Regions from separate parts of the Homo sapiens genome. Here region 2 is linked to region 1. Evidence: fine-mapped expression QTL. A gene starts in region 1. The other region holds a variant in brackets. All regions are shown on one strand. Distances are from middle to middle. Region 1 holds the start of PIWIL2-DT (PIWIL2 divergent transcript). Region 2 holds the start of POLR3D (RNA polymerase III subunit D).

The links.
Region 2: its variant is fine-mapped to the expression of PIWIL2-DT in aorta (GTEx, PIP 0.98). The same link has a PIP of 0.9 or more in fibroblasts.

What each region holds. Positions count from the first base shown.
Region 1 is chr8:22,265,038-22,279,743 of GRCh38, forward strand. It overlaps PIWIL2-DT (PIWIL2 divergent transcript), which reads right to left and starts at 10,125. Exons shown (of 2, transcript NR_134293.1): 1 at 9,942-10,125. PIWIL2 (piwi like RNA-mediated gene silencing 2) reads left to right here and starts at 10,279. Exons shown (of 23, transcript NM_018068.5): 1 at 10,279-10,361; 2 at 14,304-14,547. The coding sequence starts at 14,350. RefSeq lists enhancers at 5,423-5,592, 10,559-11,204.
Region 2 is chr8:22,244,482-22,259,597 of GRCh38, forward strand. It overlaps POLR3D (RNA polymerase III subunit D), which reads left to right and starts at 652. Exons shown (of 9, transcript NM_001722.3): 1 at 652-702; 2 at 964-1,133; 3 at 2,740-2,783; 4 at 3,376-3,527; 5 at 3,673-3,797; 6 at 4,000-4,168; 7 at 4,563-4,828; 8 at 5,594-5,746; 9 at 5,915-10,120. The coding sequence starts at 969. The coding sequence ends at 6,037. It overlaps PIWIL2-DT (PIWIL2 divergent transcript), which reads right to left. Exons shown (of 2, transcript NR_134293.1): 2 at 10,095-10,425. MIR320A (microRNA 320a) reads right to left here and starts at 556; the gene lies at 485-556. RefSeq lists enhancers at 427-1,094, 562-631, 1,756-1,925 and a silencer at 942-1,121. The variant A/C (reference allele first, on the strand shown) is at 6,617.

The DNA of each region.
Region 1 (14,706 bases):
CTTTCTGTTATATTTTTACTGACTCAGGCTGCTGACAATGACCTAGCTCCTTAGTTGGGCCACTTGGAAAACTACAGACTGGCAGATAAAGTATTTCTCTAGCCTGGCATGGTGGTGCATACCTGCAATCCCAGCTACTTGGGAGGCTGAGGTGGGAGAATCACTTGAGCGCAAGAGTTAGAGGCTGCAGTGAGCTATGACTGCACCTGCAAATAGTCACTGCACTCTAGCCTGGACAATATAATGAGACACATCTCTAAAAGTAATAATACTTTTTTTAAAAAGATTTTTGTCAGCTGGGTACAGTGGCTCACGCCTGTCATCCCAGCACTTTGGGAGGCCAAGTCAGGCGGATCACCTGAGGTCAGGAGTTCGAGACCAGCCTGGCCAACATGGTGAAATCCCATCTCTACTAAAAATACAAAAATTAGCAGGGCGTGGTGGCGGGTGCCTGTAATCCTAGCCACTTCAGAGGCTGAGGCAGGAGAATCGCTTGAACCTGGGAGGCAGAGGTTGCAGTGAGCCGAGATCGCACCATTGCGCTCCAGCCTGGACCATAAAGCAAGACTCTCTCAAAAAAAAAAAAAAAAGATTTTTGTTTTTGTCTTGTTTTGTTTTGTCTTTGGCCATGAACTGTGGAAGCACATTGCAGCTGCTGATTGAACTGTCTTGGTCGATCTAGGTGCCCATGGTAAGGGTGTCTCTGATGAGACCAACTGGAATCAAGGTGCAGATTGAGTCTGCACTGCCCAGACTAACACCTTTGCTTTCTGGATTGATCATTGTACCAGACATGGCAGCACACCCACAACAGACTGGGCACCTAGTAGAGAACTCTGCTTCAGATTCACAAGCTATCACTGCATGCCAGACTTGCGACTCCTAATAAAAGGAATAACAGGTGAGCCGTTTGTCTCCAGGGAGAAGACCGCATTGCACAGGGTGTGGCAGTTGAGTCCATCCAACCTTTGAACCCCTTTTGGGGCTCCTGGCTTACTGCTGTTGATACTTTTTCAGGTTACAGTGCTGTTATCCTGGTCCAATCAACTGATTCTGGCACATGAAACTAGAACTCCTTGAATCTTGTCATTATTAAGTGAGCCTCTTTTTCTCTAATACTACTTTTTTGCTGTAAGGTTTTCATTGTCTGATATTGACATGGCAACTCCAGCTTGCTTGCTTTTTTGAAGGATTAGTGCTTGCTTGATTTTATTTATTTATTCTTATTTTTTATAGAGATGGGATCCCACTCTGTCACCCAGGCTGGAGTGCAATGGCAGGATCCTAGCTCACTGTAACCTCAAATTCTTCTGCTCAAGCAATCCTCTCGCCTCAGCCTTCCAAGTAGCTAGGACTACAGGCATGCACCACCACACCCAGCAAATTTTTTTTTTGGTAGAAATGGAGTCTCACCAGGTTGCCCAGGCTGGTCTTGAACACCTGGCCTTAAGTTATCTCCCACCTTCCAAAGCACTGGGCCTATGTTTTCACCATCTGAATTTCAACCTTTCTCTGTCATTATATTTTATGTCTACTTATGTCTATCTCTATCTACTAAACACTATATAGCTGGATTCTGTTTTTAAAATCCAATCTGATAATCTCTGTTTTTTTTATTTTTATTTATTTATTTATTTTTTGAGACAGAGTCTTGCTCTGTTGCTCATGCTGAAGTGCAGTCGCATGATCTCAGCTCACTGTGACCTCCATCTCCTGGGTTCAAGCGATTCTCCTGCCTCAGCCTCCTGAGTAGCTGGGACTACGGGCACATGCCACCATGCCCAGCTAAGTTTTTTTTTTTTTCTTTTTCTTAGTAGAGACAAGTTTTCACCATGTTGGCCAGGCTGGTCTCAAACTCCTGAGGTCAAGTGATCCACCCGCCTCAGTCTCCCAAAGTGCTGGAATTACAGGGTGAGCTACCACGCCCAACCAATTTCTGCCTTTTGCCTGGAAAGTTCTACATATTTATATTGTAATTACTAACACAGTAGAATTTATTTCTGTCACTTATTTTATGTTTCCTTTTTGTCCGGATTTTTCTGTGATAAATTTTTATTCTTCTTTGCCTTTTTGTTTAGATTAATTTTTTCTCATTTGTTTTTCCTCCACTGACTGGAAATATATAGATTTTATTTCTTAAAAAAAAAATTGAGACAGGGTCTTGATCTGTTGCCCAGGCTGGAGTGCAGTAGCATGATCACAGCTCACTGCAGCCTCGAACTCCCGGGCTCAAGGGATCTTCCCACTTCAGCCTCCCTAGTAGCTAGGGCTACAGGCGTGTGCCACCATGCCCAGCTAATTTTTTTTCTTTATTTTTTGCAGAGACAGGGTTTCACCATGTTTTGTAGGCTCACTGTATTTCTTTAAAAAATTTTAATGTGCATACTTAGTGAGTGTAAAGTTAATTCTTATTACCCTCCTCCAGAACCTTATAATGCTTTTATTATAATTATCTCTCTCCTGACTTATATGCCTATTTGTCTTAACTTCTTGGCTCTATTTTTTTTTTTTTTTTTGGCTGTTTAAAAACTTCATCGTATTGGACATCTCTATGACCCTTTGCACATCTTCTCAGTCTTACCTGTCTCTTTATTTAGCCAGCACTGTGTTGACCAGTTCTCTGTGGGTACCCACTAGGTCTACACAGATACAACCTGATAGTACTTAACCTCAGGCTTGCTCTGTGCATCTTCTTCCTTCTTCCCTGAGACTTTCGTGTTGATGACAAAGCATGGAAAAGGATGGAACACCATGGTGCAACTACAAAGTACCGGGGTTTAACACTCCTTGAGGCGTGTCTTTGACCAAAGGAAAGGAGAGAGTCAATAGTACAAGCATCCTCCTTGCTCCTGTAGGATAGGTGGTCTTGACATGGACTTTATATGGCTTCTCAAATGGTCCTGACGGATAGAGCAACTAGATCATTGTAGCAGTGGCCAACTTCCTAATGCATCTTTGAGTAAGCTCTCCCTCCCTCCCTGCGTCATTCCCCTGTCCCTTACTCCTAGTCCCTGGGATCACACTCTGCAGTAAAATACTTGCACTAAATCTTTGTCTTAGGCCCTGCCTTCTGAGGATCTAGGCTAAGTCATCCATCTATTGGACACAATTATTACCCCTTTATTCAGTCACTTACTACACTCATGATTCCTTTTTTCTTCCCAGACTTTCCTTCTGGGGGCATTTTTTCTTTTTCTTTTTTTTTCCTTTTTCTTTTTCTTTTCTTTCTTTCTTTTTTTTTTTTTTTTAACAGAGTCTTGTTCTATTGCCCAGGCTGGAACACAAAGGCATGATCTTGACTCACTGCAAACTCCACCTTCCGAGTTCAAGCGATTCTCATGCCTCAGCCTCCCAAATAGCTGGGGTTACAAGCATGCTCCACCATGCCTGGCTAATTTTTGTATTTTTAGTAGAGACGGGGGTTCACCATGTTGCCCAGGCTGGTCTCGAACTCCTGGCATCAACTGATCTGCCTTCCTAGGCCTCCCGAAGTGCTGGGATTACAGGGTGAGCCACCTAACCTAGCCCATTTTTTCTTTATCTTCATGTTTAGAAATTTCTTTAGAGAGGTTTGTTGAAGGTAAATCTGTCAGTTTATGTTTCTCTGAAAATGCTTTATTTTACCCTTGTTTTGGAAAGAAAATTTCACTGGCTATACGATTTCTAGGTTGACAGGTTTTTTTCCCTTAACCTCTCAGGCCTGTGGATATATTATACCCTGTCTTCCAGGATTTTCCTATTAATATTACTGTTACTGAATCCACTTTTCACTCATTTATAGATAATGTGTTTTTTCTTTATGACTGCTTTTTTAGATCTTCTCTTTGCCTTTGGTATTCTGCATTACAATGATGATGTGCTGAGTGTAGATTTCTTTTTACTTCTCTGTTTCAGAGTCACTGGTCTTCTTGAAGCTAAAGATTTGTATCTTTCATCAAATCTAAAAAGTTCATACCCATTAAATTGTTGAATATTGCCTTTCCTCTTTTTTCTGTGTTATCTCCATCTCATACTTTATTGGGCCTTTTAACTCTGTTCTCTGTGTCTCTTAGCCTCTCATGTTTCCATCTCTTTGTCTCTGTGCTACATTCTAGGTAAATATTTCAGCTGATCTTCTAATTCATGATGTCTCTCTTTAGCTGTGTATATTCTCTTGTGTAATTTTCCTTTAAGTGTTTAATTTCTATTACTTTATTCATTTTTAGAAGTTCTGTTTTGGTTCTTTTCCAAACTTGCCTCATCAATTTTGGTTACCTTTGCTTTTTTTTTTTTTGTTTTTTTTTTGAGACAGGATCTCATTCTGTTGCCCAGGCTAGAGTGCAGTGGTGCAATCAGAGCTCACTGCAGCCTCGACCTCCCAGGCTCAAGTGATCTTCCTACGTTAGCCTCCCAAGTAACTGGAACTACAGGCATGCACCACCATTCCTGGCCAATTTTTTTTTTATTACTATTGTTTGTAGAGACAGGGTTTTGCCATGTTGCCCAGGCTGGTCTTGAACTCCTGAGCTAAAGAGATCTGCCCGCCTCAGCCTCCCAAAGTGCTGGGGTTACAGGCATGAACCACTGCACTTGGCCTGCCTTTGCTCTTTACTCATTGTTGCAATTGCCACCTTTATTTCTTGAAACATACTGTTTCATATTTATGAAATGTGCTATTTATTTATATTCCGTGTTCAGTGACACTATTTTTTGAAATATTTCTAGATCTGGTTCTGTTCACTGTAGTTTCTCTATGTTATTTTGTGGTGTTTCTTTTTGTTTGTTGGTTTGGTTTTTTTGAGACAGAGTCTCATTTTGTCACCCAGCCTGGAGTGCAGTGGCATGATCTCAGTCACTACAACCTCCGCCTCCCAGGTTCAAGTGATTCTCCTGCCTCAGCCTCCCAAGTAGCTGGGATTACAGGCGTGTGCCACCATGCCTGGCTAATTTTTGTATTTTTAGTAGAGATGGGGTTTCACCATGTTGGCCAGGCTAGTGTCGAAATCCTGACCTCAAGAGATCTACCCACTGCAGCCTCCCAAAGTGCTCTGCTTATTTTTTAATGTGCGTTTTTTTAAAAATGCCTCTATTAAGATATATTTTAGGCTGGGCGTGGTGGCTCATGCTTTAATCCCAGCACTTTTGGAGGCCGAGGCGGGTGGATCATGAGGTTAGGAGTTCGAGACCAGCCTGGCCAACACAGTGAAACCCCGTCTCTACTAAAAATACAAAAATTAGTTGGGCGTCGTGGCGGGAGCCTGTAATCCCAGGTACTCAGGAGGCTGAGGCAGGAGAATTGCTTGAACCCGGGAGGCAGAGGTTGCAGTGAGCCAAGATCGTACCATTGTACTCCAGCTTGGGCAACAGAACTAGACTCCGTCTCAAAAAAAAGAAAAAGAAAAAAAAGATATATTTTACATATCATATCATATAATTTATCCTATTGAATAATTTTTGGTAAATTTAATGAGTGGTGCAAACATTGCCATAAGTCAGTTTTTGAACATTTTTGTCACCCTAATAAAAGCCCTCATGCACATTTACAGTTCATCCTAATTCCCACCCCAGCCCCAGGCAACCATTAGTTTACATTCTGTCTCTATAGATTTATGTTTTCTAGACATTTCACATAAATGGAATCATACAATATGTGGTCTCTTATGTCTGGTTTCTTTCATTTAACATATTTTTTGGGGTTCATCCATGCCATAGCAGTTTGTTCCTTCTTATTGATGAATCCATCCATTGTGTGAATATATACCACATCTTTATTCCTTTTTTTTTTTTTTTTTTTTTTGAGACAGAGTTTTGCTCTTGTTGCCCAGGCTGGAGTGCAGTGGCGCGATCTTGGCTCACTGCAACCTCTGCCCCCTGGGTTCAAGCGATTCTCCTAGCTCAGCCTCCTGAGTAGCTGGGATTACAGGCGCCTGCCACCACACCCAGCTAATTTTTTGTATTTTTAGTAGAGATGGGTTTTCATCATGTTGGCCAGGCTGCTTTCGAACTCCTGACCTCAGGCGATCCACCCGCCTTGGCCTCCCAAAGTGCAGGGATTACAGGCATGAGCCACCGCACCCGGCCGGGATTACAGGCATGAGCCACCGTGCCCGGCCTCCTTTTTTTTTTTAACGCATCCCCATTGTTAAGCATACAAATTTCTGTTTATTCATTTACCAGTTGATGGACATTTAGGTGAAGTTTTTGGCAATTATCAATAATGCTGCTATGAACATTTGCATGCAAGTTTTGTGTGGACATGTTTTCATTTTTCTTAGGTAGCTACCAAGAAGTGAAATTTTGGTTCCTACAGTAATTTTTTTCTTAACTTTTTGAGAAACTGCCAAATGTTTCCCAAAGAGGCTGCATCATTTTACATTCCCACTGGCAATGTCTGAGGGTTCCTGTTCCACCACATCCTTGCTGACTTCTGTTATTCTATTAGTCAGACAGGCCTGCCATAACAAATTGCCACAGACTGGGTGGCCTCAGCAACACACATTTGTTTTCTCACAGCTCTGGAGACTATGATTCTATGATCAAGGTGCTGGCAAATTTGATTTCTGGTGAGTACCATCTCCCTAGTTTATAGATGGCCGCCATCTTGCTGTGTCCTCACATGGCCTTGTCTCTGTGCTTCCATGAAGAGAGAGGGATAGAGATAGAGAAAGATCTCATGTCTTTCTCTTCTGATAAGGACACAAATCCTATCAGATTAGAGCTCCTCCTTACCTCATTTATGTTAATTATCTCCCTACATACTTTATCTCCAAATACAGGGGATTAGGGCTTCAACATAGGTTTTGCAAGGAGGACACAATTCACTCCCTAACATTCCTCCCTCTGTCCCCCGCAAATTCATGTTCTTCTCACATGCAACACATTCGCCCCATCCTAACAGCCCCCAAAGTCTTACACCGTTTCAGTATCAATTGCAAGTCTAAGATCTCATCTAAATACAATAGGCCCTCCCTATCCACGGGTTCTGCATCCATGGATTAAACCAACCACAAATCAAAAATATTTGGAAAAAACAAAAAGGATGGCTGCATCAGTACTGAACAGGTGCAGACTTTTTTCTTGTAATTATTCCCTAAACAATACAGTGTAACAACTATTTATGTAGCATTTACACTGTATTTGGTATTATAATTCATCTAGAGACAATTTAAAGTATACAGGGAAATGTGCATAGGTTATATGCAAATATAAAATACACCATTTTATATAAGAGACTTGAGCATCTGTGAATTTTGGTATCCATGGAGGGAGGTCCTAAAAACCAATACTCTGCAGATACTGAAGGACAAATTCCATTAAATTTTACGGCTCCAGTCAGGGGTGGTGGCTCACACCCATAAGCCACTGAGTTCAAGACCAGCCTGGGCAATATGGTGAAACCCTGTCTCTACTAAAGGGCTTATTAGTTCCAACAAGAGCTGGTTGTTAAAAAGAACCTAGCGCTTCCCTCCCCTCTCTTGCTTCCTCTCTCTCCATGTAATCTCTGCACAGGCCGGGTCTCTTTGCCTTCTGCCATGAGTGGAAGCACCCTGAGGTCCTCACCAGGTGTCCAGTCTTGAACCTTCCAGCCAGCATAACCATGAGCTCGATAAACCTCTTTTCTTTATAAATTACCCAGCCTCAGGTATTCCTTTATAGTAACACTAAAGGGACTAATGGACTGACACAGGTCCACTCACATCTTTTGGCCCCCCCCCCTTTTTTTTTGAGAGAGAGTTTTGCACTTGTTGCCCAGGCTGGAGTGCAGTGGCGTGATCTCAGCTCACTGTAACCTCCGCCTCCCGGGTTCAAGTGATTCTCCTGCCTCAGCCTCACGAGTAGCTGGGATTACAGGCACCACACCAACATGCCTGGCTAATTTTTATGTTTTTAGTAGAGACAGCATTTCACCATGTTGGCCAGGCTGGTCTCGAACTCCTGACCTCAGGCCATCTGCCCACATTGGCCTCCTAAAGTGCTGGGATTACAGATGTGAGCCACCATACCTTTTGCCCATTTTTTTATTAGATTGTGTGTCCTCCTGTTATTCGGCCTGATGTGTTTCGTGAGCTCATATTTATTCATACCTTTTACGTGGGAGTTTTGGGAGCCTGGTGTATTTCTCCTGAAAGGATTTCTAGTTATCTCTGCCAGGAACCCAGACATACTACATAGGTCTACTTTAAATGAAATCCTTCCTATAGGTTTTAGGCCCCACCAGTAATGTAATTTTCTGCCCTTAATCTTGCTGTGGCTCTGGGGATCTTATTTTCTGAACAGCAGCAACAACAACAACAACAAACCAGAATACATGGTTGGAATAGAAATATTTATGGTGACCAAGTGCCCAGGGTATTTGGAGTCATGACTGCCTAGGAAAATTCAGGTTATGTATAGTTATGGGGCCATTTTCACTCTGAATTTTAGAGACTGGCAGGGCCAGGTGGACAGAATTTGGTGTTACGACTTTTTTGAGTTAAAAAAAAAATCTGTGATTTATCTCAAAATACTATCTCTTAGTGTGATATACGTGCTCTTTTTGCCCCTTTCATTTTTAATTAACAAATAGCAATTACATATGGTTATGTGGTACAGTATGATATTCTGATATTTATTTACATTGTGGAATGATTAAACCAAATTAACATATCCATCACCTCACATACTCATCTTTTTGTGATGAGATTATGTGTGTCCTTTTTAATCAATATCCTAGGGATGGCTAATTAACAATTAAAGTACTCTGTTAGGGAATATAATCTCCAAAAGAGGTTGATTAGCTTTTGAAAGGTCCTAAATAGATGTCCACGTTTCAGAAAGCTTCAACCATTTTTATGTCCAATCAACAGCAGGACTATATGGATTTTCCTTTGGTTAAATAAGTAGTGTTAATGATGTCTGGATTAGCTAGAAATACTGTACGAAGGCCACCTACACTTGCATGGATGGACAGGATATAGAAATCTAGGAAACCCAATGTGCATACCCTTTGTAATGGTGCTCTTGGTTTAGGTTCCCAAATAGAAGACATACTCAGGAAATTATCTGAGGATTATTATTCCCTTACTTCAACTAGAAGATTTGCTGAATCCTGCCCCCAAAATATTGTTTCATGTGTATAGAATAAGTGTGTCATGCAAAGTTTGGTCGGAGTTCCTAAAAGAACAAGGAGTTGGATCTTCACGAAAGTTACAAAACAGTTTGTATAACTGTTTTTGACTGCACTTGCTACCATTAAGTATTTGCACAGGCAGGAGAATTGCTTACAACATAACATTGCAACAGCTGCAAGTTAAGAAGGTTGTGTGGTAAAGGAAGTGAAAATGTTAGATCATGGTAAACAAATACTATCTAGGAACAGTGAAGGGGCATCGTGCCAACTGGATTCCTGAGTTGAAAATCATCCTGCTCCAATAATTTTCAGACTATCCTCATTCGGGAAGGATAGGGAGGGCCCTTGTATGTGTGGATTAAAATAAGTCATGGGATATCTGAGGCCTGGAAAAAATAAGGTTAACCCTTCTCTAGTCCTATTCCATGCAGAGCCCTTGGATGTCTCTATAGCATCCGCCAAAGCCTTCAGAAGCTTTACCTCAACCACACTGTAAAACCTGGGTGTGGGAGAGGGATGCAGTTATTTGACAAAATGGTTGGGAGAGGGTCAGAAATCTTTCTTTGGGTAAAATCATTCTGTAGTTGCTGAAGTAACCACTGATAATTTAATCTGCTTCCTAGAAAGCTCTTCTTGGCTCACAGATTTAGGCATCAATAAAAATAGGCAACATTTATCGAGGGTCGTCTTCTCCTTGTGCTAAGTATTTTACATACGTTATGTCATTATGTGTGTACATTTCCATTCAACCCTATGAATGGATGTTTTTAGTTTTTATCTCTGTTTTATGTATAACGAAAGTGATGTGCAGAAATCATATGAATTAGGTGTTTGAATGCGCACTCGAGCTTACCGTTTCTTTTTCACCACCTGTATCGCTAATCCTCTTAACTGGCAGGAATGGGGCAAGTCAATTTCAACACGCGAGTCTTAGGCTAAATCTGTTTATAGGAGTTGCCCCCAGAAAGGGAGTCAGGATCTCCAAACCCTAACACATTTTAACGCTGAGGTTCACATAACTCCCAGCGCTCCTTCCGCACGAACCGCCCCTGCACAGGGAACCTGCTGGAAAGGACGAGCCTCTCTTGCAGATGGGCCAATTAGATAGCTTGCTCTTGTGAACGACAGGTCTTGTGGCCAATGGGCTCATCCCCGGAGGCCTCGAAGAGCGGAAATTGGCCCTGGAGCATGTGGGCCCCGGGGCGTGGGTTGAGCTCGGTCTTCCCCTGAGGCCGCGCGGAGCTGGGCGACTGGGGCGAGGACTCGCGCACAGGTGAGTACTGGCCCCGGTTGCGGCATGCCAGGCAGGCCAGGGTCGCTCGGGGGCGGGCAGGTTGGGTTTTTGCTCAAGCACGTGGGGTGAGCCGCCCTCCCGGGCCTCTCCCCTCCCACTTCGGGGAGCTGCTGAGGGTTGCGGGTCGGGCGGGGGCGGGAAGTCGTTATTCGAGGCCCGGCGCCGCGGCCCCAAGAAGGTGTCCAGGTTGGGGCGGCAGGGGAGGCCCTCCGGAGGCCCAAGTGGACGTCTTATTTGGCCTGAGAGAGGAGATAGAACCCCTGGCAGGGCTGTGGCTTTGGGGAAAGGTGCTTTTCTCGGGGTGGAAAGGGGATGGGACTCGCCTTCGGGGGCCTTGCTTCTGGTTAGGCCCGAGTCGCGAGGCCTCAGCGCGGAGCACGCACCCAGGGATGCGAGGGAGGCAGGCCCAGCCCGTCCTGGGTTCGCTCCCCATTGAACCTTTCGGACAGCCAAGTATCTGCTACCTGATCCCAGGGGGAAACCCACACTGGGAGAGGGCCCTCTGGGGGAGCTACCTGAATCTATAGAAGTGGTGCTGGAGGTTGAGGGAAGCGTGGACAAAGAGGAAGATTCCAGATGTCCCTTAAGGGAGGCCGTCCAGCGCTTCTGAGTATGTAGCTGTTAGCATACTGATTGCTTGGGATTCTTTGGGTGGTGTTGGGGAGGTGTGAGCAGAGTCCTGGCTCACCGAAAAGGGGTGTTAGCAGTTAAATATAGCCTTCAAGAAAGGGAGTCATATCCTGCGTTTAGAGTGTGAAAGAGGATAGTTTAGTTCAATAAATTTTGCAAGTTCCTGAACTGTCTGCACTTACGCTGTGGGTTTATGAATTGTGTGTTAATATTTTCTTTAAATGTATGATTTCTCTGTAGCTAATACTTAAGACAGCTTTTTTGTTTGTTTGTTTGTTTGTTTTGAGACGGAGTCTCGCTCCGTAGCGCAGGCTGGAGTGCAGTGGCGTGATCTCTGCTCACTGCAACCTCCGCCTCCCAGGTTCAAGCGATTCTCCTGCCTCTGCCTCCCGAGTAGCTGGGATTACAGGCGCAGGCCACCATGCCCAGCTAATTTTTGTATTTTTAGTAGAGATGAGGGTTCACCATTTTGGTCAGGCTGGTCTCGAACCCCTGACCTTGTGATCTGCCCACCTTGGCCTTCCAGAGTGCTGGGATTACAGGCGCGAGCCACCACCCCCGGCCAAGACAGCTTTTTGAAAGTTAAGAAGAGGCTTCTCCCAGCATTTGGGGAGTCTGAGGTGAGAGGATCACTTGAGGTCAGCAGTTTGAGACCAGCCTGGGCAACATGGCAAGATCCCGTCTCTACAAATTTTTTTTAAAAATTAGCTGGGTATGGTGGCAGGTGCCTGAAGTCCTAGCTACTTGGGAGGCTGAGACAAGAGGACTGCTTGAGCACAGGAGGTTGAGACTGCAGTGAGCTAAGATGCCACCACTTCACTGTAGCCTGGATGACAGAACAAGACCCTGTCTCTTAAAAAAAAAAAATTCTTTTCCGTTAAGAAATATTTTTCAGGAATCAGGGGCAAGTCAGGACAATGAGAGGAGCCCCTTAAAGAGGGAGTCTTGAAATCTGTAGGTTATAAAGTGATATATATATATATATTTTTTTTTTTGAGACAGAATCTTGTGCTGTCACCCAGGCTGGAGTGCCACGATCTTGACTCACTGCAACCTCCGCCTCCTGGGTTCAAGCAATTCTTGTGCCTCAGACTCCTGAGGAGGGGGGATTACAGGCATGCACCACCATGCCTGGCTAATTTTTGTATTTTTAGTAAAGACAGGGTTTCATCATGTTTGCCACGCTGCTCTTGAGCTCCTGATCTCAAGTGATCCACCCGCCTCGGCCTCCCAAAGTGCTGTGATTACAGGCATGGGCCACCATGCCCGACCTACAGGTTATGAAGTGATTTTGAAGAGACCTGATGGGCTTTAGATTTGGTAGGGAAGCCAGGGAGAGCCTCACCCCGGGTAACCTGGGAGAGAGAAGGGTGTTAAATGCAACCTGTGAGACTGAGCAAGTATTGTAGGCTCAAAGCAGAAAGACTGTGTACTCTGGAGACTTCTGATGGAGTTTGAAAGAAGAGAGTTTTTAAAATTTTTTTTTCTATTTTTTAATTATTTGTAGAGACAGGGTCTCGTTGTGTTCCTAAGACTGGCCTCAAACTCCTGGCCTCAATGGTCCTCCCACCTGGGCCTCCCAGAGTGCTGGGATTACAGGCATGAACCACTGTGTGTGTGTGCTCAGCCTGAAGGAAGAATTTTGTAAAAAAGAATTGGATAGAGATTCGGAGAAGCAGCTAAACAGATCAAGGAAGAGAATTTGGTGCAATCATAGACTGGAAAAAAGTTAGGACTCTTATGTAGGAAAGAGAGGCCAAAAACAAAGCAAAAACCCATAAATATTTGTTGACAATAATTTTATGATATGGCTGTGTTAACTATGAAATTGTTTATAGGCCAGGCACAGTGGCTCACACCTGTAATCCCAGCACTTTGGGAGGCCCAGGTGGGCTGATCGCCTGAGGTCGGGAGTTCGAGACCAGCCTGACCAACATAGAGAAACCCCGTCTCTATTAAAAATACAAAATTAGCCGAGCATGGTGCTGCATGCCTGTAATCCCAGCTACTCGGGACGCTGAGGCAGGAGAATCACTTGAACCCAGGAGGCAGAGGTTGCGGTGAGCCAAGATTGCACCATTGCACTCCAGCCTTGGCAATAAGAGTGAAACTCCGTCTAAAAAAAAAAGGGGGGGAGGAAAAGAAATTGTTTATAAACCAAAGTCATCCTCATACATAAAAACTGCCTTAGCCAGGTGCAGTGGCTCACACCTATTATCCCAGCATTTTGGGATGCTGAGGCAGCAGATCTCTTGAGCCCAGGTGTTTGAGACCAGCCTTGGCAACGTGGCAAGACCCCGTCTGTACAAAAAATGTACAAATTAGCTGGGTGTTGTGGTGCATGCCTGTAGTCCCAGCTACTCAGGAGACTGAGATGTGAGGGTCACTTGAGCCCAGGAGGTCAAGGCTGCAGTGAGCCATGATCATGCCACTGCACTCCAGCCTGGGCGACAGAAGGAGACCCTCCTAAAAAACTGCTTCCTTATACAACAGCTAGTTAACTCACAGGACTGAGTTTTGTGAGAGGCTATTTGGGTAGAAAATATAAGTAAGTTCAAGGAGGACACGGGCCTCTAAGGCAGGGGTTCCCAACCCCCAGGCCACAGGCTGGTTGGGGGGCCTGTTAGGAACTGGGCTGCACAGCAGGAGGTGAGAGATTGGCAAATGAGCAAAGCTTCATCTGTATTGACAGCTGCTCCCCATGGCTTGTAGTATCACCTGAGCTCTGCCTCCTGTCGGATCACTGGTGGCATTAGATTCTCATTGTGCAAACCCTCTTGTGAACTTCGCATTGGAGGGATCTAGGTTGCATCCTCCTTATGAGAATCTAATGCCTGATGATCTGTCACTGTCTCCCATCACCCACAGATGGGACCAGCTAGTTGCAGGAAAACAAGATCAGGGCTCCCACTGATTCTACATTATGGTGAATTGTATAATTATTATATTTCATTATCTATTATAATGTAATAATAGAAATAAAGTACACAATAAATGTAATGTATTTGAGTCACTCTGAAACCATCCCCCCACCCCTGGGTCCATGGAAAAATTATCTTCCAGGAAACCAGTCTCTGGTGCCAAAAAGGTTGGGGACCACTGCTCTGAGGGATTGTTAATGAAGGATGTTTAGAATATTACAGATCAAATAGAAGCCTTTGAAGTGAATATGTTGTAGAAGGCTAGGCGTGTTACTGGACTGACTCAAAATACTATTTTAATGCTTTGTGAGTGTGTCTTGAAGGAAAAGGAAAACAATTGGGAATCTTAATCTTTTGAAAATGATGGCAGGTAATTAACCAGAACAGGATCGACACGTGTTCTCTACAGCCCGTCCATGGATCCTTTCCGACCATCGTTCAGGGGCCAGTCTCCTATCCACCCATCCCAGTGCCAGGCTGTACGGATGCCAGGCTGTTGGCCACAAGCTTCTAAACCTTTGGACCCAGCTCTGGGCAGGGGAGCACCTGCAGGCAGAGGCCATGTATTTGGAAAGCCAGAGGAACCAAGCACACAGAGGGGGCCAGCACAAAGGGTAAGACCACTTCCGGATGCATAGGAGTGGCATACAGCTTACCTGTGTGCCGTCAGAGGAAGTAATGGATTTCAAAGTGCTTGCAGGGCTGGGCACGGTGGCTCACGCCTGTAATCCCAGCACTTTGGGAGGCCGAGGCAGGTGGATCATCTGAGGTCG
Region 2 (15,116 bases), 20 kb before region 1:
CTTGGTATTCCAATTCCCTCCAGGCTTTGACCAAGAGCGCACACGAGGGCCACCGCCTTCGTGATCAGAAGCGGGTATGACTGGGCACCGGTTGGTCCACTGCGGCTGTTCCAAGCTGCCCCCACAGCCTCACCCCAGGACTCCACCAGGAGCACAGGGAAGGGGTCCCCGAAAGTGGGCGAGGTCGCTGCCCGGAGGTAATGACCACTCCAAGGTCACCATGGAGAACCCGCAGACAGGGCTCGGTGTGGCCCAGGACTCCCCGACTCTTAAGTCCAGGTCTCACTCTCTGCGCCGCGCCGCGCCCCTCGCCCCATCCCGAGCAGCTACCCCGAAGCTCCCAGGGGCTCCGCCGAGGCGAATCCTCACATTGCGGCGTGGTGGCCGACAAAACCCGGGACCCTGATCTTGGCGCCTCCACGCCACCGCCCGGAGGCCAAGACCCCCGAGCGCCGCAGCATAGCGTAGCCCAGACCAGTCACCTCATCCTTTTTCGCCCTCTCAACCCAGCTTTTCCCGACTCCGGGAAGAACCGGGAAGAGAAGGCGGAGGGGAGCGAAGCGCCGCCTGATAAATACTGTGGCCCAGTCCCGCCCCCCTAACGTCACTTCCGCCCCGCGCCAAGATGGCGGCGCCCAGGCCCTGCCACGCAGACTTCCGCCCGGCGCGGAGACCGAAGGCTGGCGGCTGGTCGCGTTGCAGGTGAGGTTGTGACGCGCGGTGTGGAGCCGCGGCCCGGGTGCGTCCCTGTCTGGTTCCTGGGCGGGGTTCCTGGAGAGGGCGTGTCGCGAGCCAAAGGCTCTCACCTGGGTGGTCCCGGGAGTCTCGCCACGTGGGAGGGGAGGAGCTGAGAGGCCACTGGAGGGACGCACCGACTGGGGGACCGGAAAGCAAGGGGGTGGGGTTCCGCCAGGGTCCGCGTGTCAGTCCCCTCTGGTGATCTCGTCGCCCCTTCTCTCCCAGGCAACATGTCGGAAGGAAACGCCGCCGGCGAGCCCAGCACGCCGGGAGGGCCCCGACCTCTCCTGACTGGGGCCCGGGGGCTCATCGGGCGGCGGCCGGCGCCTCCCCTCACCCCCGGCCGCCTTCCCTCCATCCGTTCCAGGGACCTCACCCTCGGGGGAGTCAAGAAGGTACCCAACGGCGCGTTTCTAAAGAAACTCAACTACCTTGAATTCCAAGCCCCAGGATTCAACTAATGTTTGTGTAGGACCTACTGTGTGTCAGGACTGTCGTTGGGCCTCTCAAGCCTACCCCTCTTTAAATTCTAGGGAGTCTGTCCTACCTTCAAATCTAGGTACTGAGTACAAGATGTTGAAATGACTCCCAGAGGTGGTTGAAGGGCAGAGAATCCTAATAAGTTAAAGTCGTTCAAAAGCAATTTGAACAGTGTTTATTTACTTTTATTGTGTGTTTGGACATCTTTAAGAAACCCATGAAAGCCAGACAGGCATAAACTTCGCAGTCTTAGAGGGTTCAGAATTCACCATCTCTGTGTGCAAACTTTTTATCTAGAGTATGATGAATCCTAGGTATGGCATTCGAGGCTCTGTGGCCTCTCCCATGTGTATATGACTGTGGATGTCAAGAGTAGCCCAGAAAGGGGTGGGGTCAGGATGACAGAAGAACAAAGCAGGTTTTGGTTTTGGTTTTGGTTTTTTTTGAGAGGAAGTCTCGCCGTTGTCCCCCAGGCTGGAGTGCAATGGCACGATCTCAGCTCACTGCAACCTCTGCCTCCCAGGTTTGAGCGATTCTCCTGCCTCATCCTCCTGAGTAGCTGGGATTACAGGCGCCCGCCACCATGCCCAGCTGATTTTTGTATTTTTAGTAGACACAGGGTTTTGCCATGTTGGCCAGGCTGTTCTTGAACCCCTGACCTCGTGATCCGCCCGCCTGCCTCGACCTCCCAAGGTGCTGGGATTACAGGTGTGAGCCACCGCTCCTGGCCGAATAAAGCGGTTTTTTGGTTTTTTGTTTTGTTTTTAAGGGAATCTCTTTCTGTCGCCCAGGCTGGAGTGCAGAGGCACCATCTCAGCTCACTGCAACCTCCGCCTCCCGGGTTCAAGCGATTCTCCTGCCTCAGCCTCCCGAGTAGCTGGGATTACAGGGGCCCGCCACCGCGCCCAGCTACTTTTTGTAGTTTTTAGTAGAGACGGGTTTCACCATCTTGGCCAGGCTGATCTTGAACTCCTGACCTCGTGATCCACCCACCTTGGCCTCCCAAAGTGCTGGGATTACAGGCATGAGCCACAACGCCCAGCCATAAAGCAGTTTTTAAAAACCTAACTTTGCCTTGGAAAATTGTGGTGACAGTCCATAGTCACCTGATTGAAAGTGTTGGCAGATCTATGGCCTTCCCTACTTAGGCCTTGCTGCTAGAGCTGTTCCCCCATGATACTGACTGGTCTCTATAGCAGTTTGAAGAGAAGAGGTGAGACCAGAGAAATTCCTTTGCTTTTAGAAGTCCCAGAGGATCTTCTTTCAGAGGCAGAACCTAAGGCTGCTGGTTAAAAGTGGGTTTTGGTGCCCCCTTCTATGTGTAACTCCACTGCTACCACACTATGACATTCCTCCTTTTCAGGCACATGTGTATCTATAAAACTGACAGCACTGTGGAATGTGCCAACGAGAGCCGTGGTGGCCTTGGTCTGTAGAAGATGCCCTTTGGGAATTTTTATTTTCCTCTGTACTTTGGGGTCAGAACCTAACACATCAGTGACTCCTGTATTTTGCTTTCAGAAAACCTTCACCCCAAATATCATCAGTCGGAAGATCAAGGAAGAGTAAGTAGCTAGGCCTTCTGAATACTTGCCCCTTATTTACTTGCTCTGAATTTGGGGCTTTGGGGGAAATAACTAGGTTTGTAGCTCCAAAATTTAAATTTATATCTTTAGTTCTTTTCACTAGTGATTTTCAACCCTGGCTCCTAGGTGATTCTGCAAGCTTTAAAAAATAAATAAATAAATAAATAATTACTGGTGTCTAGGGTTCCATCTTTAGAAATTGTGATTTAACTTGCTGGCAGTAGAATGGAGTGATTCTCTTTGTTGCCCGAGTTGAGAGCCAATAGTTTAAACAAAGATGTATCACACTTTCCCTGAAGTTCCTTTGCATTTCTGCCTTCCTGCTTTCAGTCCCAATGCAAACAAAAATCTATATTTTTGGACAAGAAGGTAAAGTAAAGCAAACTGAAAAAATCCTGCCTCATCAAGGAAGTGAGAAAAGTGCTAGAATTAGGATTGGATTCTGCTTCTCATGGTGTAAATATTGGCTCAAACTCTCCACTGTTTTGGAGTGAAGTGGTATGGGAGAGTAAGGCCAGATTTTGGAGACACAGTGAGTGAGTGGTTTCCCTTAATCCATTCTTTTTTCCAGGCCCAAGGAAGAAGTAACTGTCAAGAAGGAGAAGCGTGAAAGGGACAGAGACCGACAACGAGAGGGGCATGGACGAGGGCGAGGCCGTCCAGAAGTGATCCAGTCTCACTCCATCTTTGAGCAGGGCCCAGCTGAAATGATGAAGAAAAAAGGTATAAGGAAGGAATCAGTGAATTTCAGTTCAGACTGCCCCAGAGAAGGGCGAGAACAGTGGAATTTCCCCACTCCCATTTCCGTTTTCCTTGCTGTTGGGCATCTTCCTTATCGATCCCTAGTGACCTGGGTGATTTCCCACAGGGAACTGGGATAAGACAGTGGATGTGTCAGACATGGGACCTTCTCATATCATCAACATCAAAAAAGAGAAGAGAGAGACAGACGAAGAAACTAAACAGATCTTGCGTATGCTGGAGAAGGACGATGTGGGTACCAGGAGGCTGGGGGAAGGGGTTTCCTTGTGGCTGTAGAACAGGGCTTCTGGGGAGCCAGGTGAGGGGTAGAAGAGCTTACTGATGTCCTGGAATCCTGGGGAGCAGCGGAATCTTTGGTTAGAAAGGGACTAAAGCAGACTTTGATCCAGGTGCATGTGCTAGCAGGCTGGATGACCCAGACTCTCTTTGGCAGTTCCTCGATGACCCCGGCCTGAGGAACGACACTCGAAATATGCCTGTGCAGCTGCCGCTGGCTCACTCAGGATGGCTTTTTAAGGAAGAAAATGACGAACCAGATGTTAAACCTTGGCTGGCTGGCCCCAAGGAAGAGGACATGGAGGTGGACATACCTGCTGTGAAAGGTACTCTGTCGGTTAACTTCTCATCTCCAATTCCATGGCTGCTCCCCAGGAATCCCGTGCATCAGGCATCCCTTGCATGTGCCCCTGACTGCTGCTCGTGAGCAGGTCCTCCCATTCCGGCTGTAAGATACATGAGCTGAACAAAGATGCTCCATTCTCCCTCGCAGAGGGTTCCTGTGTTGACAGGGAGCAGTGGGCCTAGCCTCAGATGTCCCTTTTTAGATAAGTCATGTGAGACTTGAACGTGTTGTCTCTTGCCCCTCTGTATAACTGGTGCCTCCTTCCCACTCCCTGGCTGAGTGACAGTGGAGCAGACAGGGGCAAAGGGCTGGTAACAGTGAGCTGGTATGGAGGGTGGTCACTTGATAGCATTCCATGTCTATCACCCGGGCAGTGAAAGAGGAGCCACGAGATGAGGAGGAAGAGGCCAAGATGAAGGCTCCTCCCAAAGCAGCCAGGAAGACTCCAGGCCTCCCGAAGGATGTATCTGTGGCAGAGCTGCTGAGGGAGCTGAGCCTCACCAAGGAAGAGGAACTGCTGTTTCTGCAGCTGCCAGACACCCTCCCTGGCCAGCCACCCACCCAGGACATCAAGCCTATCAAGACAGAGGTGCAGGGCGAGGACGGACAGGTGGTGCTCATCAAGCAGGAGAAAGACCGAGTACGCTCAGACAGAGGCCTGCGGGAATCAAGTCGGGGACTGGGACGGGAAGTGGTGACCTGTAGTGGGAAGCAAAGCCGTGTCACCCTGGCTGAAATGGGACAATAATGGGTGGTTATTCTTGACGCCTGCAAGAGCCATGGGGCTTTGTACCTCCAACCCCAATTGTGTATGTGTTGTGGGGGTGTGTGTTCACTTCTTATAAGGAAATATTTCAAACACAAATGAGAGAACATATGGCCAGATGCGGTGGCTCATGCCTCTAATCCCAGCGCTTTGGGAGGCTGAGACAGGAGGATCACTTGAGCCCAGGAGTTCGAGACTAGCCTGGGCAACGTGGTGACACCATGGCTAATACAAAAATTAGCCAGGCATGGTGGCGTGTGCCTGTAGTCCCCGCTACTTGGGAGGCTGAGGCGGGGGAATGGCTTGAGTCCAGGAGGCAGAGGTTGCAGTAAGCCTAGATCATGCCACTATACCCCAACCTTGGCGACAGAGTCAGACCTTGTCTCAAAAAAATAAGAGAACGTAAACCGCCATGTACCAGAACTCAGCTTCAGCAGTAACTGATATTTTGTCCGTGTATGTATTTGTTTGCTGTGGGTTTTGTATTTTAACCATAGCAGACAGCCCTAGGAGAAGGCACTCTTTGGGGAGCTCATTTTGACCTTTGCTGTGCCTTTCTCTTGGGGAGTAGAAGGGGGTTCATGAAAGATGGAGGAAAGAGCTCCTAGCCCAGTGTCCATCCTCTGGTTTTCTCCGCAGGAAGCCAAATTGGCAGAGAATGCTTGTACCCTGGCTGACCTGACAGAGGGTCAGGTTGGCAAGCTACTCATCCGCAAGTCTGGAAGGGTGCAACTCCTCTTGGGCAAGGTGACTCTGGACGTGACCATGGGAACTGCCTGCTCCTTCCTGCAGGTAAGAGCCTCCTTAGGGGCAAGGAGGGACCCTTTCAGGAGTGAAGGAGGATTGAAGAGCCACTGCTAAATAAGGGAGGGGGTTTCTGGGAGTATCATGTCCCCATTCACAGCTCTACACGCCGGGCACGTGGTGGTGGTTCTCATCACTGTCTCTGTTAATTGGCAGGAGCTGGTGTCCGTGGGCCTTGGAGACAGTAGGACAGGGGAGATGACAGTCCTGGGACACGTGAAGCACAAACTTGTATGTTCCCCTGATTTTGAATCCCTCTTGGATCACAAACACCGGTAAAATGAGCAGGTGGAGGAGGACGGCGCCTGTGCCCACGGCTGCTGCCTGCTCCAGACATTTTGTTCTTGAATCTGTGAGACCCAGAAGGGGCCCACTGAGCCCACTCACTCCAGCCTTTGGCAACCATTGTTCCAGGTCCCCCAGGGCTTCCTCCCACAGCAGCTGTGAATGGCACAGTGACCTTCCTGCAGCGTGGAGATGGCACATCCTTGCTGCTGGGGACTTGGCCCTGCTATTTATTTTTGTATTTATGTCTTAATCTCTTCCACTGATGCATCCTCCAAGGGTAGATGGGGAGGGTCTGTGTGAAGGGGCCGGCTTCTCTTGGTGCCTGCTGGGTTGCAGGGGCAGGAAGCGTGTGGACTGCAGCTTCTGCTGGTGCTCCCCCCGTCCTCCTGGAGGCAGTATAGGAGAGAGAGCAAGGATTGAGTCTGAGACTTAAGCACTCGGTCCCAGCTTGCCAGTTCCTGGTTCTGTGTCCTTGGACAAACTACCTAACCTTTCTGAGCCTCCTATACCTCATCCGACACAAATGGGGATGATACCTACCTCCAGGGTTGGCGTGAGGATTCATGGGCT[A/C]TTATAGATGAAAACTGCACAAGGCCAGAACCAGCAGGCACTCAATAAACGTTCATGTCCTTTTTCTCTACCTGAGTCTATTTTCAAACAAAATAGAGATTCTAAATCTCCCAGAAGCAGCGACTAGAGCTGCTCCCGTCCCCACTCTTGCCCCTTCCTGCTTTATATCCCGTCCTCACCCTGGGCCTGATGCCCTAAATTTATGGTGTCAGATTGTTCTATGCCTTTTTCTCCTGGCTCCTGTTAGCCAGGTGCCTCCTGTGTGAGTTACTGTAATAGCTGCAGGTAATAGAAAGGAAGAAGTCAGAGACCCCTCCCAGCACCCTACAAAAGCCTTTGGGGGACATGTTGGGCCCAGGACATGTTCCCTGCACTCTTTCCTTTGCAGTTAGTACTCATGTATGAGCCGAAGTCATATATTGCTAACAAAAAAACTAAATCCTTCATAAGAGAAGTTAGGGATGTATTGAATAATGGCCTCTTTGACACTTGGCCGATGATGCCCACTTCAAAAACTTTGGGTTTCAGAGGCCTGCCCGTCTCCTGTCCTAGCACTGCCAGAGCCACCTACTCAGTGTTACTTTTTTGGGTCTGTGATCCTGTTCCCTTTACCAGGTCATTGTACTGTGTTGTCCCTGGAGGAACAGCTTCTCCTCTTGTCTTGACAGTAGGGCTGGGGTTTTCCCTGGTTCAGCTGGGGAGACGTTTGCAGGTTAGAAAAAGGTCTCATGCGGCAGCGTGTGTGGCTGTTAGACGCTGATGGCACAACTTCCCTTTGCTGGCGTCGTGGCACCTGGCCTCTGGGACAGTATGAACCATAGGGGCTCAGGAAGAACCGCTTCCCCTCCACCCCCATCCCTGATTCCTAGTGGCCCCTTAGATTTTGGGTACATCTTCCTTCAGGCTCACCTTCCTTCTTTTCAAAGTTCCTCAAGCCTGTTACTCATTTGTCAAGGCTGGGCTTCTCCTACAAAGCCCTCAACCTGCCCAGCCAGCAGCTGTGAGGCTGACTGAATATTTGGTGACCATATCACCCTTTCTGGTGCTGAAGCTCATGTCAGCTCCATTGGACAGTGTTATTCTGGGCTCTTCTCACTGTAGAGGACTGGAGCAGAAAGGGTTCCTTGGAAACCTGTGCTGGGAAGCCCTGTTTGGTCTAAGGCTAAGCTTTGGTTAACTCTGGGCTCCAGCCCTTTCTTCCTTTAAATAGCTGATGCACGGCCAGCAGGTCTCCATTCTCATCCTCTCTTTCTATTCTGTTTCTTTGGTTCAGAAATACTCTTCTGCTTTTTTTGGACGAACTCAATGGCCCGATGTTAGATATTGGGTATTTTTCAATCTTCTGTTTTCTGACCCTTCCAAGAAAGTTTGAGGAAGAACATGTACTGCTTTCACGTTCATTTCGCCCATTCAGATGTCTTGGCTTGAACCTTATGACTCCGTATCAAAGTCCTCACAACCTGTCTCAGATCCCTGATGCACAAATTAGGTCTTATTAATAAGTGTGGGAAAAGAGAGGAGAGTCCACCTTCTTGGTCAGGCCCCTGAGGCATGCATTTCTACCAAGGAATATGGACAGATGACAGAGGAGAAGAGCCCAAAGCCAAATTTATACATGAGTGCAAGTGGATGCAAATTTGTTGCTCCCTGCATCTGTGTATATGCTTTCTGTTAAATACAGAAAGAAGGAACAATAGGCTTGCACACTTTTCTAACTACATGTTTAAGTGGCAGAGTCCAGGCTGTCGAGTCACGGTTGGGTTTGAATCTGACTCCACCAGTAACTTTGGTTGGAAAAAATCACTTATCCTCTTTAAGCTTGATTTTATTTATTTTATTTTATGTAAGAGTGAGACAGTAGTAGCTTAATAGGGTTGCTTTTAAATTAGAGTGAACATGAGGCATTTATTCGGTGCCAGACAGATAACTGCCTATAACAGGATGTGATCAGCACAAGTAACAGAAAATTAGCCTGACGGTGGCTTAAGCAATGGGAATGTTTATCTCACATAGCAAAAAGTCTGTAAATAGATGGTTCTAGAGTTGGGTGGAAGCCAAAATGTCATCAGGATTTCCTTGGAACCGTCTGCTTTGCCATCCTCAGTATTGCAGAATGGCTGCTCCTGCGCCAAGCATCATTCTGCAAATGATGGTGTCCACAGCCAGAGTGGACAGTAGTACAGGAGCCTTCTCATTCTGCCCTTATCCGGGAATAACCGTCAGCAGCTCCAGCAACCTCCCCCCTGTCTCTTTATAGAGTGGGGCCACGTGCCCACTCTTGGACCAGGCCCTGGCAAAGGGGGATGGGTCGACTAGTGTATCCCCTGGCACTGAGCACACTTGCCCTTGAGCTGGGGTTTTGTTAGTAGGGAGGAAGCTGGAGTGGCAGTTGGATAGACAATTCATAGTAGCTGCTGCCATGTTCAAAAAATGCTGCAATGTAAAATCATAAAGTATTCATCTAGGCATAACTTTTTAAAATATTCAGTCACCTTTTATTCTACTAAAATCAATTTTAACATTTTAGTGTATATTATTTTATTTTAGATTCAGCAGGTACATGAGCATGTTAGTTTTGTTTTGTTTTGTTTTGTTCTGTTTTGTTTTTTGAGATGGAGTCTCACTCTGTCGCCCAGTGGTGTGATCTTGGCTTACTGCAACTCTGTCTCCCAGGTTCAAGTGATCCTCCCGCCTCAGCCCCCCAGATAGCTGGGATTACAGGCACATGCCACCACACCTGGCTAATTTTTGTATTTTTAGTAGAGACGGGAGTTTCACCATGTTGGCCAGGCTGGTCTCAAACTCCTCACCTCAAGTGATCTACCTGCCTCAGCCTCCCAAGTGCTGGGATTACAGGCGTGAGCCACTGCGCCCAGCCACATGTGCGTGTTTGTGTATATTGCGTACTGGTGGGGATTGGGCTTCTGTCATACCTATCACCCAAATAGTGAACATTGTACTCAGGTAGCATTTCAACCCTTGCCCCCCCTCCCACTCACCCCCTTTTGGAGTGCCCAGTGTTTGCTATTTCCATCTTTATGTCCATAGGTACCCATTATTTAGCTCCCACTTATAAGTGAGAACATGTGCTATTTGATTTTCTGTTTCCGAGGTTAGGATAATTACCTCAAGCTCCATCCATGTGGCTGCAAAGCACATGATTTCATTGTATTTTATGACTGCTCATGTATATTATTTCAGCCTCCAAAATTTTGTATGTTATTTATAATGATATAAATTATGTGGTTTTATCGTGTACTCTATCTCACTCAGAAATACATACAATTCTTCGTTCCCAGCTACTCTGGAGCTGAGGTGGGAGGATCACTTGAGCCCAGGAGTTCAAGACCAGCCTGGGCAACATGGTGAAACCTTGTCTCTGAAAAATAAATAATACACACCCACATGCACACACATCCAGTTCTTCCATGTTAATGAGTATGTTGTGTTTCACATACTTCTGAATTAGCCGAAGGAATTAAAGGTAGCATCTTTTAATCCTCAGACTGCCCTGCGTGGTCCGATTGAATTGGGCAGTCAGCACTAGGCTCTTCAAAGGGAAACAGGCTTCTTTCTTAGGACGGTGCACAGTGAAAGAGTGGCACACACGCTGTTCATCCAGTGCTCCAACCCCCAGTCCTGGTGTCAGATACTTCTACATTTGGGGCATTTCCCCTTGAGATGGCTGTGGCTAGCGACACATGATGTGAACACCTCTCTTGGATTGTGGTTCGGCCGCACAAGGCCCCATCAGAGTTCTACAGGTGGAGTGTGGGGCCCAGAAGGGGCTCAGGTCTTAGGGGTGTCATCTGAAAAAACAGAGATGGTGATGGGACACCAGTTCTAGGAGCCCTCTGCATGGCCACTTTCTGCCTCAGCTCTTCTAAAGCATTTCTTCTGTTCCCTTCCATTGGGGTAACCACTGATCTGTCTTCCCAAAAACTGAGTCAGAAGTTGGACTTTGTTACTTGGCTCATCTACATTTAAGATATAGTCAGAAAAAAAATGCAGTCTTTACATCTTAAGAAAGCTTACATGGGCCAGGCGCAGTGGCTCACACCTGTAATCCCAGCACTTTGGGAGGCCAAGGTGGGCGGATCACCTGAGGTCAGGAGTTCGAGACCAGCCTCAACATGGAGAAACCCCGTCTCTAGTAAAAATACAAAATTAGCTGGGCGTGGTGGTGCATGCCTGTAATCCCAGCTACTTGGGAGGCTGAGGCAGGAGAATTGCTTGAACCTGGGAGGCGGAGGTTGCGGTGAGCCAAGATCACGCCATTGCACTCCAGCCTGGGCAACAAGAGTGAAACTCCATCTCAGAAAAAAAAAAAAAAAAATAGAAAGCTTACATGAAAGAAAAAGAAAAATGCAGTCTTGATCACTGTTGGCCTGGAGACTTTATCTTGTGTGTTTTCCAGGGCGTGCATGAGGTTTCACTGGACAAGTAGAAACCATTCTAGGTATTCAGAAAGAGTTAATACAAGAAGAGAAGTTTATAGACTCGTTGGAAGGCTGGAGGAGTGAGCCATAGGTTAAGCATCCAGGAATCAGCACCCCCTAGAACAGATGGTGAGGGAGCTACACCCTCTGCCACAATCAGGAGGGTGGAGACTCAAGCTCGACTGAGTTCCGGAACACAACACACTGCCACAGCTGCCAGCCAGGGGTGAGGGAATCCCACAGCCCCAGCTGCCTCTGGGGAACCATACAGCTGTAGCTGGACCCTGGCACACCTGAAGAAAGTGCCTGCTGTGTGCTAGGCACCCTGCAGGAGTTAGGAAAGCAGTGGTTAGGGGCTGTGTCCTGCTGGAGGAGCCTGCACTCTAGTGAGGGAGACAGGATAAGCTTAAGGAAGGACGTTAAAAGGTGACAAGAGTTTGGGAACTTGCAGGGAGCAGGGGATTCTGGGTGGTGGCGGGCATGTTGCAGCAAGTAGGGTAGGTCTCCTTGAGAGGGTATCGTTTGAGGAAGTGAACCAGCGGGATCAGATGCAGGTGGGGAGAGTGCTCTGGGCTGAGTGAAGAGTAAGACAGAGACTGGCTGGAGCTGAGGGAGTGAGAGGGGTGGGACCTGGCCCTGGAGGGCTTTTAGGCCATGGTAGGGACCTTGGCTTTATTCTTTTTTTTTTTTTTTTTTTTTTTTTTAGACGGAGTCTCGCTATGTTGCCCAGGCTGGAGTGCAGTGGCGTGATCTTGGCTCACTGCAACCCCCACCTCCCAGGTTCAAGTGATTCTCGTGCCTCAGCCTCCTGAGTAGCTGGGATTACAGGCACCCGCTACCAAGCCCAGCTAATTTTTGTATTTTTAGTAGAGACAGGGTTTCACCAGGTTGGCCAGGCTGGTCTCAAATGCCTAACCTCAGGTGATCCACCCGCCTCGGCCTCCCAAAGTGTTCGAATTACAGGCGTGAGCCACCACACCCAGCCCGGCTTTATTCTTAAAGTGACCTGGTGAGCCAGCTGGTGTGGAGATGAGGCGGGAAGCAGGGCTGATGGAGTCCCTGGACAGTGGATGGCAGTGGCTTGGCCAGGCCGCTAACAGCAGGGGCACTGGGAAGTGATTGGATTCTAGATACTGATTTCAAGGGTAGCACACACGTGATCTGCTGATAGATTCCATGTCAGGTGTGAGAGGGAGGAGAGTCAAGCTCATCCACAGCTCTGGCAGCGGAAGACGGCCAAAGTGAAGAAGGTGGCCTCAAGTTTACCTCCACCTTCCAAACCTCAACTGGTAAAACCTCATGCATGCCCAGAATGCTAGCACAAGAGATTTAGGGAAATGTGGGTATTTTGCTTTCTGGCCCTGCAGTTCAGGTTCCACCTTATAAAATGGGAGTGGCGTGGGTGGTGGGCGCCACCAGCCATATTCACGGGAGTTAGCATAAGGGTTCACAGTTTGAGTGAAGCTTCCTGAGACTGTGCCGTGCTGCCAACACAGTTCTCTCCGATTCATTCCCTCAAAACAGTATATTCCCAATGAAAGCACGACCAGTACTTAAACTAGCCATGTTCAGTGTGGCTCTCAGACCTTTCCCCAGGGCAAGATGATCACAAGAATTCCTTTAGGAACGTCTCTTAAATTGTACAACTAAAGTTTAATGGTTATATTAGAATCCGTCTTCGTACTATGAAAATTCACCCAACTGATCTCCCATTTCTGGGATATTTAGATTTTTTCTAGTTTTTCATCGTTTAAAAAATGATGCAGCCTGGGGTGGTGGCTCATGTCTATAATCCTAGCAGTTTGGGAGGCCAAGGCTGGTGGATCACTTGAGCTCAGGAGTTTGAGACCAGCCTGGGCAACATGGTGAAACCCCATCTCTACCAAAAATATAAAACTTAGCCAGGCATGGTGGCTTGCTCCTGTACTCCCAGCTACTTGGGGGGCTGAAGTGGGAGGATTGCATGAGCCCAGAAGTGGGAGGTTGCAGTGAGCTGAGACGAGATCGCACCACTGCACTCTAGCCTGGGTGACAGTGAGAACTTGTCTCAAAAAATAAATAAATAAATAAAATCCATTAAATTGCCAGTGTCCTCAATTATTTCCTTAGGAGTCTCTATTTAAAATGGTTTTCCTGACCAGACTGGGCAATGTAGCAAGACCTGGTCTCTAGAAAAAAAAAATTTTTTTTAATTAACTGGGCGTGGTGATATGAGGTTATATAGCGCCAGCTACTCTGAAGGCTGACGTGCGAGGATCAGTTGAGCCCAGGAGTTTGTTAAGTCCAATCCTATGAGATTTTTAAGGATTTTGATAGATTTTTCCCTCCAGAATGTTTGCATCTATTCACATGTGCATCAGCAGTGCATTTGTAGTTAAATGTGTAGTTAACGTTCTGTTTTTAAAACTATACAAATGTTGGGCCAGGCGCCATGGTTCCTGCCTGTAATCCCAGCACTTGGGAGGCCAAGGTGGGTGGATCACTTGAGGCCAGGAGTTTGAGACCAGCCTGGCCAAAATGGTGAAACCCTATCACTACAAAAAATAAAAAATTAGCTGGGCCCATGGTGGCACGCGCCTGTAATCCCAGCTACTCAGGTAACTGAGGCCCAAGAATTGCCTGAACCAGAGAATTGCTTGAAGCCAGGAGGCGGAGGTTGCAGTGAGCTGAGATCACGCCACTACACTCCAGCCTGGGGGACAGCGTGAAACTGTGTCTCAAAAAAAATATATATATATATATACACACACACACACACACACACACACACGTACATGTGTGTGTGCATGTGTGCAAATGTTGGGCCAGGCAGCGTGGTTCCTGCCTGTAATCCCAGCACTTTGGGAGGCCAAGGTGGGCGGATCACCTGAGGTCAGGAGTTCGAGACAAGCCTAACTAACATGGAGAAACCCTGTCTCTACTAAAAATATAAAGTTAGCCGGGTGTGGTGGTGCATGCCTGTAATCCCAGCTACTCAGGAGACTGAGGCAGGAGAATCACATGAACCTGGGAGGTGGAGGTTGCGGTGAGCCGAGATCACACCATTGCATTCCAGCCTGGGCAACAAGAGTGAAACTTTGTCTCAAAAAAAAAAAAGAAAAGAAAATATGGTAAATGCGTGATTTTTATTAAATATATAAACTGATACAATGTGAGTGCTGAAGAAAAAATTCTTATTTCTATGGAAACTAAGGTAAAGGCTTTGGCAAGATTAAAGATGAGGCTGAGCGCAGTGGCTCACGCCTGTAATCCCAGCACTTTGGGAGGCTGAGGCGGGTGGATCACTTGAGGTCAGGAGTTCGAGACCACCCTGACCAACATGGTGAAACCCTGTCTCTACTAAAAATACAAAAATTAGCTAGGCGTGGTGGCACAAGCCTGTAATCCCAGCTACTTGGAAGGCTGAGGCAGGAGAATCACATGAACCCAGGAAGTGGAGGGTGCAGTGAGCCGAGATCACTCCATTGCACTCCAGCCTGGGCGACAGAGGGAGACTCTCTCAAAAAAAATAAAAAAAATAAAAATGATGTGATAGAGGCTGTTGGTTGTTCCTCAATATCCAAATATCCACTCTTTCCTTCTTCCATGATAATGAGCCTTGACTTTTAGGAGGGCACGTACTCATTCAATACAAAGACCACATTCTCAGCCTCTTTTGAGAGCAGAGGTGACTCTATCATTACTTTCTGGACAATGGCATGTAATCATAAACATGGGGCAGTGCTAAGGTTTGGATGTTTGTCACCTTCCAAAATTCATGTTGAAATTTAGTCCCCAGTGCAACAGTACTAAGAGGCGGGACCATTAGGAGGTGATCTGACCGTGAGGGCTCCCACCTCGTGGATGGGATTAGTGCCCTCATTAAAGGGCTTGAGGGAATGTTTGTCCCTTTTCCACCTTCCACCATGTGAGGACATAGCAACAAGGCATCATGCTTGAAGCAGAGAGGGCAAGCCCACAACAGCCACTAAATCTGCTGGCATCTTGATCTTGGACTTCCCAGCCTCCAGAACTGTGAGAAATAAATCTCTATTTACAAATTACCCAGTCTGTGGTATTTG